Homo sapiens: one gene and its partners. The protein of the gene in region 4 purifies or fractionates together with the protein of the main gene of each other region. This does not show direct contact. Each region holds a gene or a part of one and is shown on either strand. Other genes may lie near its edges.

What was found.
Region 1: the proteins of TTC1 (region 4) and DNM3 purify together in Homo sapiens (affinity purification with a luminescence readout; one large-scale study listed by IntAct). This does not show direct contact.
Region 2: the proteins of TTC1 (region 4) and GFPT1 fractionate together in Homo sapiens (co-fractionation; one large-scale study listed by BioGRID). This does not show direct contact.
Region 3: the proteins of TTC1 (region 4) and UFM1 fractionate together in Homo sapiens (co-fractionation; one large-scale study listed by BioGRID). This does not show direct contact.

Annotation. Positions count from the first base shown.
Region 1 is NC_000001.11:171,847,998-171,851,497, reverse strand, and holds part of DNM3 (dynamin-3), read right to left. Parts: intron 1-3,500. UniProt on the Homo sapiens protein: Microtubule-associated force-producing protein involved in producing microtubule bundles and able to bind and hydrolyze GTP. Most probably involved in vesicular trafficking processes, in particular endocytosis.
Region 2 is NC_000002.12:69,321,228-69,324,727, forward strand, and holds part of GFPT1 (glutamine--fructose-6-phosphate aminotransferase [isomerizing] 1), read right to left. Parts: 3' UTR 1-3,500.
Region 3 is NC_000013.11:38,356,351-38,359,850, reverse strand, and holds part of UFM1 (ubiquitin-fold modifier 1), read right to left. Parts: intron 1,759-3,500; coding exon 1,719-1,758; intron 551-1,718; coding exon 518-550; intron 1-517. UniProt on the Homo sapiens protein: Ubiquitin-like modifier which can be covalently attached via an isopeptide bond to lysine residues of substrate proteins as a monomer or a lysine-linked polymer.
Region 4 is NC_000005.10:160,047,139-160,050,638, reverse strand, and holds part of TTC1 (tetratricopeptide repeat protein 1), read right to left. Parts: intron 1,126-3,500; coding exon 977-1,125; intron 1-976.

The DNA.
Region 1 (3,500 bases), on a different chromosome or scaffold from region 4:
AGGTTGCAGTGAGCTGAGATCATGCCACTCACTGCACTTCAGCCGGGACGACAGAGCGAGACTCTGTCTCAAAAAACAACAACCGTTCTAATCCAAGCCCACTCAACTATTCTCAACCAATTTATTGATGACAAAGGTATGTTTCAGCTTAGATAAATGGCTTGTACAGAGTCAAGTAGCTGATTCATTCAGTTAGCTCCTGCCATATGCCGGCACTGCACTACGGAAAATGATAAAGGAGACACAGCTCCTGGCTTCGTGGAAGCTGCAAATAGTTGAGCAGACAGAGGAGGCAACCAACTGTTCGGTAGATTCCTGTGCAGTGAAATATTAACAAGGGCCACCAAGGAGGGGCCTCTAAATCAGACAGATAGAGCTGAGAAGACCAGCAGATGACAGCAGAGGCCAGACTAAACCCAGCTCTCACTGTTCTTGGCATGCTACCTTGCTTACCTGTGGCACACTTTGAACAAATATGCAGGGACCACCTGCCACAGGGAGCAGGAGAGAACCAAAGCCACCCCAGACTAACTCATTCACAAATACTCCTAATTCTCACAGTGGTTGAACCTTACCAGTCTTTTCTCTTCGTATGTCCCTACAATCTGGTGGACACTCACAAAAGCATTGCTTCCTCCTTCTCATCTCCCCACTTACTCTGCAAGCAAGGAACTCATGATCCTTCTGCCACTTCCCTTCTTAACTTACTCTGAGGAAAAAAAAAAAAAAACAAAGCCCTAAGAGAATATGTAACTTTCAAAGTACATAATTCAAATCAAGTACCCACACATACACATTTTACATGATATGTTTTTAGGATTAAATAAACAGGCTAAAGTTTCTTAAGTTGAATTTACAAGGACTTCAGTATGCAGGTCGTTCTATCGGTATTTAGATGAGAATGCAGAAATCTCACCACACAATTGTTGCTGTCCTGGTAGTAGGACTCAGAACCATGAATGCTAGGATCTATAAAAATAATTGCAAGCCTTTGCCCCTCTTTTCAAAATATGAAGAGAATGGGTCTTAGTTTTATTAACCAGAAAACATAAACAGACACACATATACAGGGTTCTAAACCTCCACTAGATAAGAAACCCAAAGCTATTCTTTTCAAAGCTTCTGAGGTATATCTAGTAACTTAAAAATAATGTAATTCCAAACAGAACCAGCTGACTAGCTCAGAGCTAAAACTGATGGTTAACAAGTTATGGGAATGTCAATCAAATCAGAATATGAATCTTTCCACTGGAAAAAAGAGTGATTTGGTATTATTTCAACATCTACTACAAAAATGTTGGTACTTCTTTTAAGATCTAATTACACCTTACCTCCTGAACACTTGGTTGTAGATGGTTTCCTTGGGCTCAGACCATACTCTTGCTAAGTAGTCCTGCTTCGCCAACTAGACTTCCTCAATTGTTTTTCCCCCTTCTACACCATCTTTGCCTGCAATTTCATCTAACATTTCCAAAAGAAAAGGAATATGCTAAGAATGGTTTACTTTATATCACAGCATCAAATATCTTCCTTAAAATATATTCTCTAGGAGAAAACTAAAAATAATGTCAGAAAAATTCATTTTAATTCTATTATCTGTTATTAAGTCTATTTTGTTCATTAATTTCTAGTACTCACCATGTGACCCCAGTATGTCACCCAACTTTTTTCCAGCTTAATCTTTTTTATTTCTAAATTAAAGTAAACAAAACATGCTTTTGCTATCTTCTCACAGAAATTCGAAGGATTAATGAAATGATAAAAACTGCTTTGGAACTCTTGGAAGGGAAGAGTATACAAACTGGGTTCACTTTGTATATATTGGTTTAAAAAAAAAAGAACACATTGTGATAATGCATTTAACGAATGTGGGCAATGCTTTCTTTAAAGAAGGCTCAAATATATTCTATTAGCCTTATCTACAAGTAAGTATTTTGATGCAACTGTAATTTTCCAACATTCACGAAAAGAATTTGCAAATACGCATTACCATCTGCCTCAACTTACTTTTGTTTTTAAAACACTCAAAAAATGTCCAGTCTAAATAAAAGATTTAAATTAAGAGCAATCAGTTATTGAATGCATACTATGGACCAGGCACTTGATACCATCTTACTCAGAACTCACACACAGATTAAAAGGTGAAGTCTGCAATCCCTATTTTGCAGATGAAGGAACTGAGGCCAAGTGAGGCTAGATTCCGTAATGAGGAGCCATGCTACCAGTGAGAGTCAGAGGCAGGACTCAAGAGCTGCCAGCAAAGCCTGCACTCCATCACCATGCTGTGATGACTCCTCTTCAAATACTCACTTTTGAGAAATCTAAAAAAATAAGCACCATAAACAAGTTTAGTCACCCATCAAATTACTTATCAAATAGATTAGTCTTTCAATTCCAAGCCACTGGAAGGATAAACAATGAGGTCCTTCAGGATACCTAGCTACTGCTATCATGTATATATATGCTATTCATGGGTATATCATGACCTTGAAGCAGTGGGAAATAAAAATGACACACTGTCACAAAGAAGCACTGAGGTACATTTTAAACCCTTGGAAATAGAGGACTTGCAGCAGGGATATTAGAGAAAAACAAGATCTAAAGCAATCCTGTATCATTCATATAATTCCGGAATTAAATGTATCATCATTTTCCTCAACAACTGCTCTGTTTTTGTTATCAATTAACACTAAAGACAATGCAATATTAATGCTTGTTGAAAAATTGTTAAAATAATCTCTATAACATTAATGGACCTCAATGTCACTCAATGCACTCTAAGAATGCAAACACACACACAAAAAGAATAGAAAACAGGCAAACTGAAGGATGCAGATTTGCTACACAAATACATCTTTATTTTACCTAAAAGTTCACCCACTTGTTTAAATAATAACATTTCCATTTAGATTATTTATTTACATACAACTTTTCAGAAGCTCGTGTTGGTTTAAGCAAGGCCTATTGATGACCATCTCAGGCATATCTTTCTAGCTAATGCCCACCTGGTGGATAAATATTAATAATGTGTAAAAACATCCAATATCTTATTTAGTCTTTTCCTGGGCCCATCTGTTCCCTAAAAGTCACGCTTTACTCACGAGTATACTATTTCAGTCAAATTAACTTGCCTAAGTCTGAGAAAAATTCTGCTCCCTGTCTCCACTATTCTGTATGGGAAAAAAAAGGTAATAAAATGCAATGTCACTGCTGGTCAACTATCAAGAAGAGTAATGAAAGAGAGTATCACGGAAGAGAAAAAGGCTGGCCCAATGCAAAGGGATGGGAAAAGGAGGAGGCAGGGTGAGGGTTGGAGGGAGGTGCTCTAAAACAATAACAGGAGGAAGAGAAGATGATGAACTGGCACAGGCCTCCCAGTTCCTAACATTAAGTTCCAAACCTAGCTCTGATTTCTTCTGACCTTGGGCAAATCTCTGGTTTCTCTGTATCCTACTGTGCTCCAGGAAGTTAGAGAAAATCAAGCCAGAGAAAAGCTTCTT
Region 2 (3,500 bases), on a different chromosome or scaffold from region 4:
TAAAAGATGTGAGAAAGTATCTGTGGAGTTTGGTATCAGAAAGGGCAGAGCCTTTGTTTTATCTAACGATTCTTTCCCAAACTGGGAAGTTCGGGTAGAGACAGTGGCTTTTGGTAATATTTAGGCAGTGATTTCTTATTCTTAAAATCAACAGTAATGAATAAAGTTTTGACATCAGAAATGTTTACAACTAAAGTAGACATTGATTACATTCTTAGTACAATACAATTTCTAACATAACTACAAATGTGTATACACTTCAAATATTAGCAAATTGCTTCAAAATGAAATTCTAAGCAAGTTTTTGGTAATTTATTCACAGTTCAGGCTTACTCACTGGACTTAACGACATGAGGAAGAAATGACCAACTGGCTCAGTAAACTAAACATTCATTTCAAAAATCACAAAACTGAAACAAAGCAAAGATGATCCTAAAATTTCCACTTCTCAAGAAGTGTAATTTAAACAAATACCAAAAGCTTTATTTAAGCAAAAACACATTCAACCACAGAACATTCAGAAAGCTAACAGGATCATTTCTACATTCATTCTGCAAACAGTGTAGTAAGAAAGGTAATTTGAGAATTTCCAAAGATGTTCTCGCTAGCCATTATTTATGGTAATTACATAACATTTTGATGTCAAGTTATTACAGACTTAAAAGTTAATATAGCATAATTTTACAATCGTACTTTCACTATGATTTTTATTTTAACCCTGGATATTATTGGTTTGAAGCTAATATTATCAGTCCTATTGGCTGTCACTGTCACAGATCTGAAGATATGTTTAAATTCATCAAGCTAGGAAGATATCAAAATATTAACAATCTTCAAGTATAGTGAGAAAAAAACTGATTTAAGTGTTAGCATTTCTAAACTTGAGACTCTAACAGTAAAAATAAAGTAATCTGAAACCTGTTTCCATGGGTAAAACACTCTGCCTGGTATTCTTGTACACAAAATTTACTAAATATGTGAATATCATAAAATGAAAATATCACTCCCTTCAATTTCTTTGGCCTTCACAAATTCAATGTGACTATGATCCTTTTCAATAATACTTTCAATGACATTGTGCTTCTTTAGAAAAATCACTTAAGTTGTAGCATACAATAGTTAACATTAGTTCTTTTATTGCTATGGTATATGCTAATTTTTTTAAAAGGGGAAAAAAAAACCCAGAGAACTTATTAAAATGTTTGTTAAAGCAAACATTTCAGTTGGTTTCCTTTCTTTGAAGAATAATAGAAATAAATGTCAGAGGAGTATTACTAAGGAGCCAAAACAAACAAACAAACAAAAAAACAAAAAACTCCTTTATTACTCCCATCCTCAGAACTAACTCAAGACAAGAGATCTGTATTCAAAAAGATAAAACAATCTCATCTCAGTAACTACCTCCTATGAAACCTAAGAGAGAAAACCTGTAATAGCTCTCTTAACCAACAGCCCCATCTGCACATCACCAAGCACCAGTTCCCTTTGGGTAGCAGTAATGCTTGTTTTTCATCTTTGCATATTAAGGACTGTTGTTAACAGATTTATGGGTCATTTGTAGCTTACTTTGCAAATACCTTTCACTTCTTATGAAACACAATATGCCCCCAAACATGGACCATTATTCAAGTAGACAAAATCACTCACTGACAGCACTTTAACAACCCGCCTCCACTTCATCTTCCCATTCTCTCACCCTATGCCTTCCAATGAACCTAGTCTTTGCTAGTGATGAGTCCATCTGGGGACAAATACTGCTTTAAAGATGATGTAATTTTCAATGCCAACCACAGTGACTTTCCCATAATAGGTATTAATAAACACTTGTTGACATAGTTATAATAAGCTAAAAATAGTTAACATTAATTTTTCTCTTTATCTTTTATTCTTATGGCACAGAATTTATTTTAAAAGACTGAAAAACTGATTCCAATGTAATAATCACTTACTGGGCCACACGCTAGATGACAGACATGCCTCCCTGCCTAAAAAGGGCTCAAAGGAACTCTCAGTTATACATGAGTGAATTAAAACTTTAAATGTACTACAAGAAAGAACTTTTTATATGAAGGATTCTTTATGTAGAGTATCTTTTTTGAAAAATCAGATTTTCTTATCCTATATTACACTGGTTTTAATTGGGCATGCTCACTTTAGTGGTGTGCCTCATTACAATGTCTCTTTTGTGTTAAGAATTAACTTACAAAAGCATTTAAAAATCACTACATCAAATGGGATAGAGAGTAAGAAGACAGGAGAGAGAGGAGAAACCATGTTTTTTGTTTTGAGTCAGGAGGGTCTCACTCTGTCACTCAAGCTGAAGCACAGTGGCACAATCACAGCTCACTGCAGCCTCAACCTCCCAGGCTCAAGCGATCCTACTACTTAAGCCTCCCAAGTTGCTGAGACTACAGGCACAAGCCACCATGCCCAGCCCATTTAAAAAAAAAATTTTTTTTTTTTTTTTTTGAGAGAGTCTTGCTCTGTCGCCAGGCTGGAGTGTAGTGGCGTGATCTCGCCTCACTGCAACCTCCGCCTCCTGGGTTCAAGCGATTCTCCTGCCTCAGCCTCCCAAGTAGTTGGGACTACAGGCGCACGCCACCACTCCCAGCTAATTTTTGTATTTTTAGTAAAGACGGGGTTTCACCATGTTGGCCAGGATGGTCTCGATCTCTTGACCTCATGATCAACCTGCCTCGGCCTCCCAAAGTGCTGGGATTACAGGTGTGAGCCACTGCGTCCGGCCAAAAAAATTTTTGTAAAGACCAGGTCTCACCATGTTGCCCAGGCTGTTCTCCAACTCTTGAGCTCAAGCAATACTCCCACCTCAGACTCCCAAAGTGGAGGCTGGTATTACAGGCTGAGCCACTGCACCCGGCAGAGAATCCATGTTTGTTTGGAAAATATCACTTCTTTGTTCTTGATTTTGGTTTTTGATATTCAGTTTAGAACTTACCCTAGCTTTCAGTATATTTGTGTGTGTGTGTGTACACATGTGCTTTATAGAAAGACACACACAGAGGGAGACAGAGATTATGCAGACTAATGACTGACTTCACATATTAGTTTTAACTTAGAATGCTGAATCATACTTTAAACTATAAGAAATGCTACAAACCCACACAAATTGTGTTTGTAAAACGTTAATATACAAAACATAAGAAATGACACTATACACACGCTAGCTGACTTACACAAAATAATCTTAGAAACAATTAAAGTAGATTAATATAGCTATAATAGCCATATATTATATATAATGTAAATAGTGACCCTATTTTATTCTTAAAAAGATCAGGTTTCTAGTCACCATGTATGAAAGTCCTTCCAAATTACCTCAAAATATAACAAATCTTTCTCTAACCCTAAGACACAAGCAGAATTCTATGCTTCTCTGGCAACAACAATAACTATTAGAAAATCTTAACCTCACCCAGAAGTTAAAACAAGAAAAGAAAGAAAAGAAAGGAAAAAACAGCTTACTTAAATAATTGTGCTAA
Region 3 (3,500 bases), on a different chromosome or scaffold from region 4:
TATGAGACTACTTTTACCCTGTCTCCTGGTCAGGACACCAATATATCACCTGTATAAATTTAACAGTTTGAAGATCTGAATGTAGACTCAGCCCCTTGAAATGTAAATGACTATATTTAAAAAAAATAATAGCACTTAATGAATGCTTTCTATAAATAATCCAAGCTATGAAGCACTTTACAGTCACTATCTCACAACTACCTTAAGAGGTAGGTCAAAAAATACTCCAATTAGAAAGCAATCTTATCTACAGACTTTTTGTTATATATAATAAATACTCTTAATGCTTAAGCCACTATTAGGTTTTCTGTTACTTGTAGCCAAAAACATCTACAATCAATATACACAATGAAACAACTTATTACTCAGACACACAGGTAAAGACTGGTATATAATCCCTAAAAAACAGCTCCATTATGTTAAAATACTGTCAAGTGTAATTAGAATAGCTTAACTATTCAGTGTCAATTGACATATATAACCCCACCCACTCCTCTATGAGTTTTCAAATACTCACCAGCAGTCTGTGCAGGATTTATTCCTATTCCATCTAGAAAATAAGTTGTAAAATCACATACATTATTTCTAAAGCTAAAATGGTTAAATAGTAGCAAGGAAAGAGATTTGCCAAAATAGTGCTGTTGTGTATATAGACATAAGCCAAACACTTTAAATCCAAGAACACGAGTGACAATCTTTCAGGTAAATTATCTGTTGAAATCTACTATTATTCTGCATTCATACACATTGCTGGGTTAGACAAAAACGTCTGTCAATGCAATGATCCTGGTAAGTTCTATGGAATATAGGTTATTAATTCTATTTTGCCATATAGAATTAAAAATAATGTTTGTCCTTTCTTCCAAAAAACTAAAAAGCCCCTTAGGTATGCCATGAATCATCTTCGTATTGTTCTAGGTCATAATATCTTAAGGCTGGGAGAGCTCACAAAGTCATTTAGTTCAACACGTTACTAAGTTATGACCTAAAACTTTCCAGGTAGTAAGCCAGCTTTTTTCCAACAGAGAAACACTTCAATGTGACAGAATGCAGAATATTTTAGAGTGAGAAATTCTACCTTATCTAAGTTACATCACGCACATTAAGCCCATCTCCTGTCCAAACTGCACTTGGGCAACGCATCAGCACTCATCAATACTGCATTGTATACTTGAAACACAGTTAAGCCCTCCCTGCAATCTTTACTCCTCATCTTATTATTTCACTATTTTCTCACAAGACTAATTCCATCATCATTGATTATCAGTGTTCCAAGATATTAAGATTTTTAATTATATACCTAAAACGGAATAAAATTCTCATTATTGCAAGCCTACAAGAAACAATTTTCTATCAGGAAAGGTATAGCAAAGATACATTCCTGCTTAACTTTCTATATTCTAAAGCATTTACCAAACAACTTTACTTAATAAAAAAAAAAACTTGCTAAATAAAGTTATTTTCAGTTATAATCTGGCATGAACTGGTAAGGACAAAAGATATTATAAAGTGCTATACTATATCAAAAGCTATATACAAAGAAATGAAAGGAGCTAATTATTAACAATAACCCTGACTTAGTGTTTACCAGTAAGTATATCATTTATGTTGATATACATATACTTGGGGCTTTTTGTATTTAATTTTAATTAATTTGGTTCCTTTTACACCATTTCTATAAATTTGAGGTAATACATAATTTTATAGTGAATTCTTACCATTGGTAATAATTGCACTTGTTGCAGCAGGAACTTTAAACTAAATAGAAGGAAAAAAAAATATATATATATATACACACACACACACACACACAAAACTATAAGATAATTAGCAAGAATGGGGTACAAATACCAATTCTATAATTCTAAAGTAGGATTAATCTTTTAGAATAAGTGAAACTATCAAGGAAAGTACAGCTGACCCTTGAATGACATATGCAGATTTTCTTCTGCCTCCGCTACTCCTGAGACAGCAAGACCAACCCTTCCTCTTCCTTCTCCTCAGTATATTCAACACAAGACAAGGATTAAGACCTTTCCCATGGTCCACTTCCACTTAATGAATAGTAAATATACTTTCTGTTATGATTTTCTTAGTATTTTTTCTTTAACGTTATTGTAAGAATACAGTATATAATACACATAACAAAATACATATTAATCGCCTGTCTGTGTTATCAGTAAGGCTTCCAGTCAACAGTAGGCTATTAGTAAAGTTTTTGAGAAATAAAAAAGTTTTATGCAGATTTTCAACTGCACAGGGGGTTGGAACCCCTAACTCCCACGTTATTCAAGGGTCAACTGGACTATATCATATGCTTTATCTGTAAAAAAAAAACCCTGTATTATAAACAGTGCTTTTGATTGTATTTAGGACACCATTAATTATAAAAGTGTACCTTATATTATACATTACAAAAATGAAAAACCACTGTCAATTTATGCCCAGATCAATGTTTACTCTTTAGGACTTATCCATCAATTTTGTCATTTATAATTCTCTTGAACAGCAAAAAGTACATGCAAAATAAACTGATGAGATTATTCCTAAAATTTCTCCATAGAAATTGCAAGATCTGAACAGATGCTCTCTGTGTTTAATGGGAGGTGCCTACCGAAGATTTTCAGGTAACAACCAAGGCTTGTATTCCTTACATTCCTCTGTAATGATTTGCTGATTTAAAGCTCAAGGATTGCAATAGTCCAATTATGTCATTAGGAAATAATAATTAAGTGTAGATGATGTTACCTAGACAATTAAGTGAAAGCCATTTGGCCAACAGTGATAGCAAGCCTCCCCTGATCTATTTCAGAGATGTTTAAAAAGATGTGTTTTTTAAATCAATGAAATGTGGTATGGAATTTATTGGTAGCTAAAAGGTAGATTCCATCTCTTAAAGAGACCAGCAGTTGCCAAAGTGTGTTTATGTCTTCACAGTTTATGCATTTATCCAACAAATTTAAGCATGTTTGTGCTATGGACTAACTTTATAGATATTATAGTTGAGTTTTGTGATCAAGTTTGGAAAACACATTTAACTAGTGGTCTTCTCAAAAGCCTTTAATATACTCCTAACAGAAATGAAGTGTTTCTCGTATTTTTTGACCAGTAATCCCTGTTCTTCATGAAGTTTTTTTTTTTTTTTTTTTGGTGGTACTAATTTGTGTGTGGTTCTAGTTGTCTGGGAAACACTACTCTAGGCATCTATAATCATTACATATACATAGTTGAGAAAAACTAAAAGCTTATTTTAAATTAGAAATTGAAGAATCAACTTTTAAAATAAGGCCTTAAACATACCTGAGAACAATTATTTGTTATAGTATTATGTACAAATTAATAATAAACACATTTTAATCTCAATGTGGTACACTCTTGTGTCCTTTTAAAGATTTTAAAATTTTTAAAGAATTTCAAAGTGTACTTAAGTAAACTTAAAAATGCATCACAAATATTTTGCACAGGCTGTAATCTCAATAAGAATTTGATCAAACACTCAA
Region 4 (3,500 bases):
AAAAAAAAAAAGTTTTGTTTGGCTCTGTTTCCAGTTCTTAATAGAAAGTCTACACTAAAGGAGGGCATCAATACAAATTTAACAAATAAATATATACAGAAAAAAGTTTGAAAGGATACATATCAGATGTTTACAGTGCTATATTTGTATTTTTAACTTTTTTTTAAATTCATTTGTATTTTTTGTTTTTTTAAGACAGAGTCTCACACTGTCGCCCAGACTGGAGTGCAGTGGCGCAATCTCAGCTCACTGCAACCTCCACCTCCTGGGTTCAAGCGATTCTCCTGCCTCAGCCTCTCGAGTAGCTGGGATTACAGGCATGTGCCACCACACCCAGCTAATTTTGTATTTTTAGTAGAGACAGGGTTTCTCCATGTTGGTCAGGCTGGTCTCGAACTCCCGACCTCAGGTGATCCGCCCTCCTCGGCCTCCCAAAGTGCTGGGAGTACAGGCGTGAGCCACTGCACCCAGCCTGTTGGTTTGTTTTTAAGATACAAAGTCTTACTCTGTTGCCCATGATGGAATGCAGTGATGTAGTCACAGCTCACTGCAGCCTCCAACTCCTGGGCTCAATGATCCTCTCTGTTGCCCAGGCTGCAGTGTAGTGGCATGATCTCAGCTCACTGCAACCTCTGCCTTCTGGGTTCAAGCAATTCTCCTGCCTCCCGAGTAGCTAGGATTACAGATGTGTACGACCACACCCGGCTAATTTTTTGTATTTTTAGAAGAGATGGGGTTTTGTTGTGTTGGCCAGGCTGGTCTCGAGCTCCTGGCCTCAAGTGATCTCTCCTCCTTGGCCTCCTAAAGTGCTGGGATTACAGGCAAGAGCCACTGCGCCTGGCCTCCCATATATCTTGATAAGCTCCTCAAAAGCACAGAAATGGAATTTAATTGTGTCTGAAAGGATTATTTAGGACTCACTGGGTAGCAACACAAAGAATAGAAGGAAAAATATTTTTAAAATTTTAGGTTTTACCATACAAGCTTCTCTTGCTTGATGTATTGATGGATCTTTTTCTAATATAGATTTATAGTCTTCCAGGGCTTCATCTAGCTTGTCCGTCTTCTCATACAACTCTGCTCTCCTCAATATTGCCCTGATATAGCTGGGGTTTAATTGAATTGCTGTAAAAAGAGAAGAAATAATTTTTATCACAAAGAAAAATGGCCTACATATCTTTGGCTATATCAGATTCCTTCATCAATCATCCTCCAAGGATACGAAAGGAAGAGTCATTTGCCAAGTGTATACCTGATGCTGGAAAACTTTTTCTATAAAGAGCAAGATAGTAAAGATTGTAGGCTTTGTGGGTCAGACAGACCATCTGTGTCGCAGCTCCTCAATGATACTATTGTAGCACGAGAGCAGGCACAGATAATATGTAAACAAAAAAGGATAGGTGTGTTCCAATAAACTATTTATGGACACTAAAATTTAAGTTCACATAATTTTCACATTATCATGAAATATTTTGCTTTCCAATGATTTAAAACTGTAAAAACCATTCTTAGCTTTTAGGCTATCAAAAACAGGTGGCAGGCTGGATTTGGCTTGTGGCTGTAGTTTGCCATATCCTGGTCTATACTCCAAGTCCTGGTTTTTGCCTACTTGTCATTTACCCAGTCCAGGACAGGCCAGAACAGAGTTCAAGTGCGCAGTGAAAGAGTGAGAGAGAATTTTTTTTTTTTAGACGGAGTCTCGCTCTGTCACCCAGGCTGGAGTGCAGTGGTGTGATCTTGGCTCACTACAACCACCTCCTCCCAGGTTCAAGCGATTCTCCTACCTCAGCCTCCCACGTAGCTGGGATTACAGGCATGCGCCACCATGCCCGGCTAATTTTTGTATTTTTAGTAGAGATGGGGTTTCATTATGTTGGCCAGGCTAGGTGAGAGAGAATTTGAAGATACAAATTAAAGAGTTAAGGGAAACCAATCTGGTGGCAGACTATCATTCTCTTTTTTCTAGGTCTTGAGTACTAAGATTATATTTCTAGTTAAATCCTCACTGTTCCTTCAACCCTCAAACTACTGCTCCAGCACTATGAGGTGGTTGATGCATAATATCTTTTCCTTTATCCAGCATCAGCTGCCCTTCTAATAATCCTTTGCTATGTTTTGGTTCAACATACTGCATTTCTTCTAATTTCTTCCAAGTTGTTTCTTTTTCTATTAGAAAGCAGTGCTGGCCGGGTGTGGTGGCTCAGGCCCATAATCCCAGCACTTTGGGAGGCCGAGGCAGGCAGGTCAATTGGGGTCAGGACTTTGAGACCGTCAGCCTAGCCAACATGGCGAAACCCCATCACTACTAAAAATACAAAAATTAGCTGGGCGTGGCAGTGTGGGTCTATAATCCCAGCTATTTGGGTGGTTTAGGCATAAGAATCACTTGAACCCAGGAGGCGGAGGTTGCGTGCAGTGAGTGGCGATTGCATCACTGTACTCCAGCCCGGGCAACAGAGAGATAATACTCTGTCCCAAAAAAAAAAAAAAAAAAAAAAAAAAAAAAAAAAAAGCAATGTCTTGGCTCTAGAACTTTTTTCTTTTCTCATAATCTATCCTTAATTTTTAAATTCATGCTTTCTGTGAACATTTATTTAGTACTTAATATATACGTCCAATGTAGTATGTCTCTGGGCTATAGTGGGAAACAAGACAGACACAGTCCTTGTTCTCATGAAGCCTTATGCTATTCTAGTAGGCAAGAACAGACAGGTATATAATTTCAATAGCCATAGTACTATAATGAAAAATAAAACAAGGTCATGGAAATACAAGTGAAGCGAGAAATGAGGTAACTTCAGAAAGTGGTCTCAGAATATGAAGAGGGACTATGTGAGAGAGGCCAGCCATGTGAAAGGCTAAGGAGGAGCGTGCCAGGAAGAGGGACCAACAAGAATAACTCTGGCATGTGAGTTATCAGGCTGGGGATCAGAGGCTGAAATGTAGGGCCATGGAGGACCTTCCTGGCCAGGGAAAGGAGTTTGGACTTTTTCCTCAGTGTGATGAGAAGCCACTGGAAAGTTTTCAAGCAAGCTTCAGACATACTCTGATTTACATTTTTGAAGGACTGCTTTGGCTGTAGTGTTGGCGGGTGGGGCAAGACTGAAAGCTGTGAGATCAGCTGGAAAGCTAATGCAGTGGTCCAGATGAGAGAAGATGTTGGCTTGGTCTAAGCTGGAAGTAGTAGAGATGGAAAACAGCAGCCGGATTACATTAAATATGTCTTTAAATTTGAGCCCATGGAACTTGCTAATTAATCAATTAGCCATGTGACACGAAAGAACAATCAGGGATGACTCCAAAGGTTTAACTTAAGCAAGGGGACAGATGGTAATGTCATTTATTAGAATGGAAAAAACTAACTGCAAGTTTTGTGTGTGTGTGGGGGCTGGGCACGTTAAATCTGAGGTGCCTACCAGACATCCAAGAAGAAAGAACTTTGCAGTGGGATACAGGACACTAGACTACAGGGTAGAAGTCAGAGTTGAAGACAGAAACTC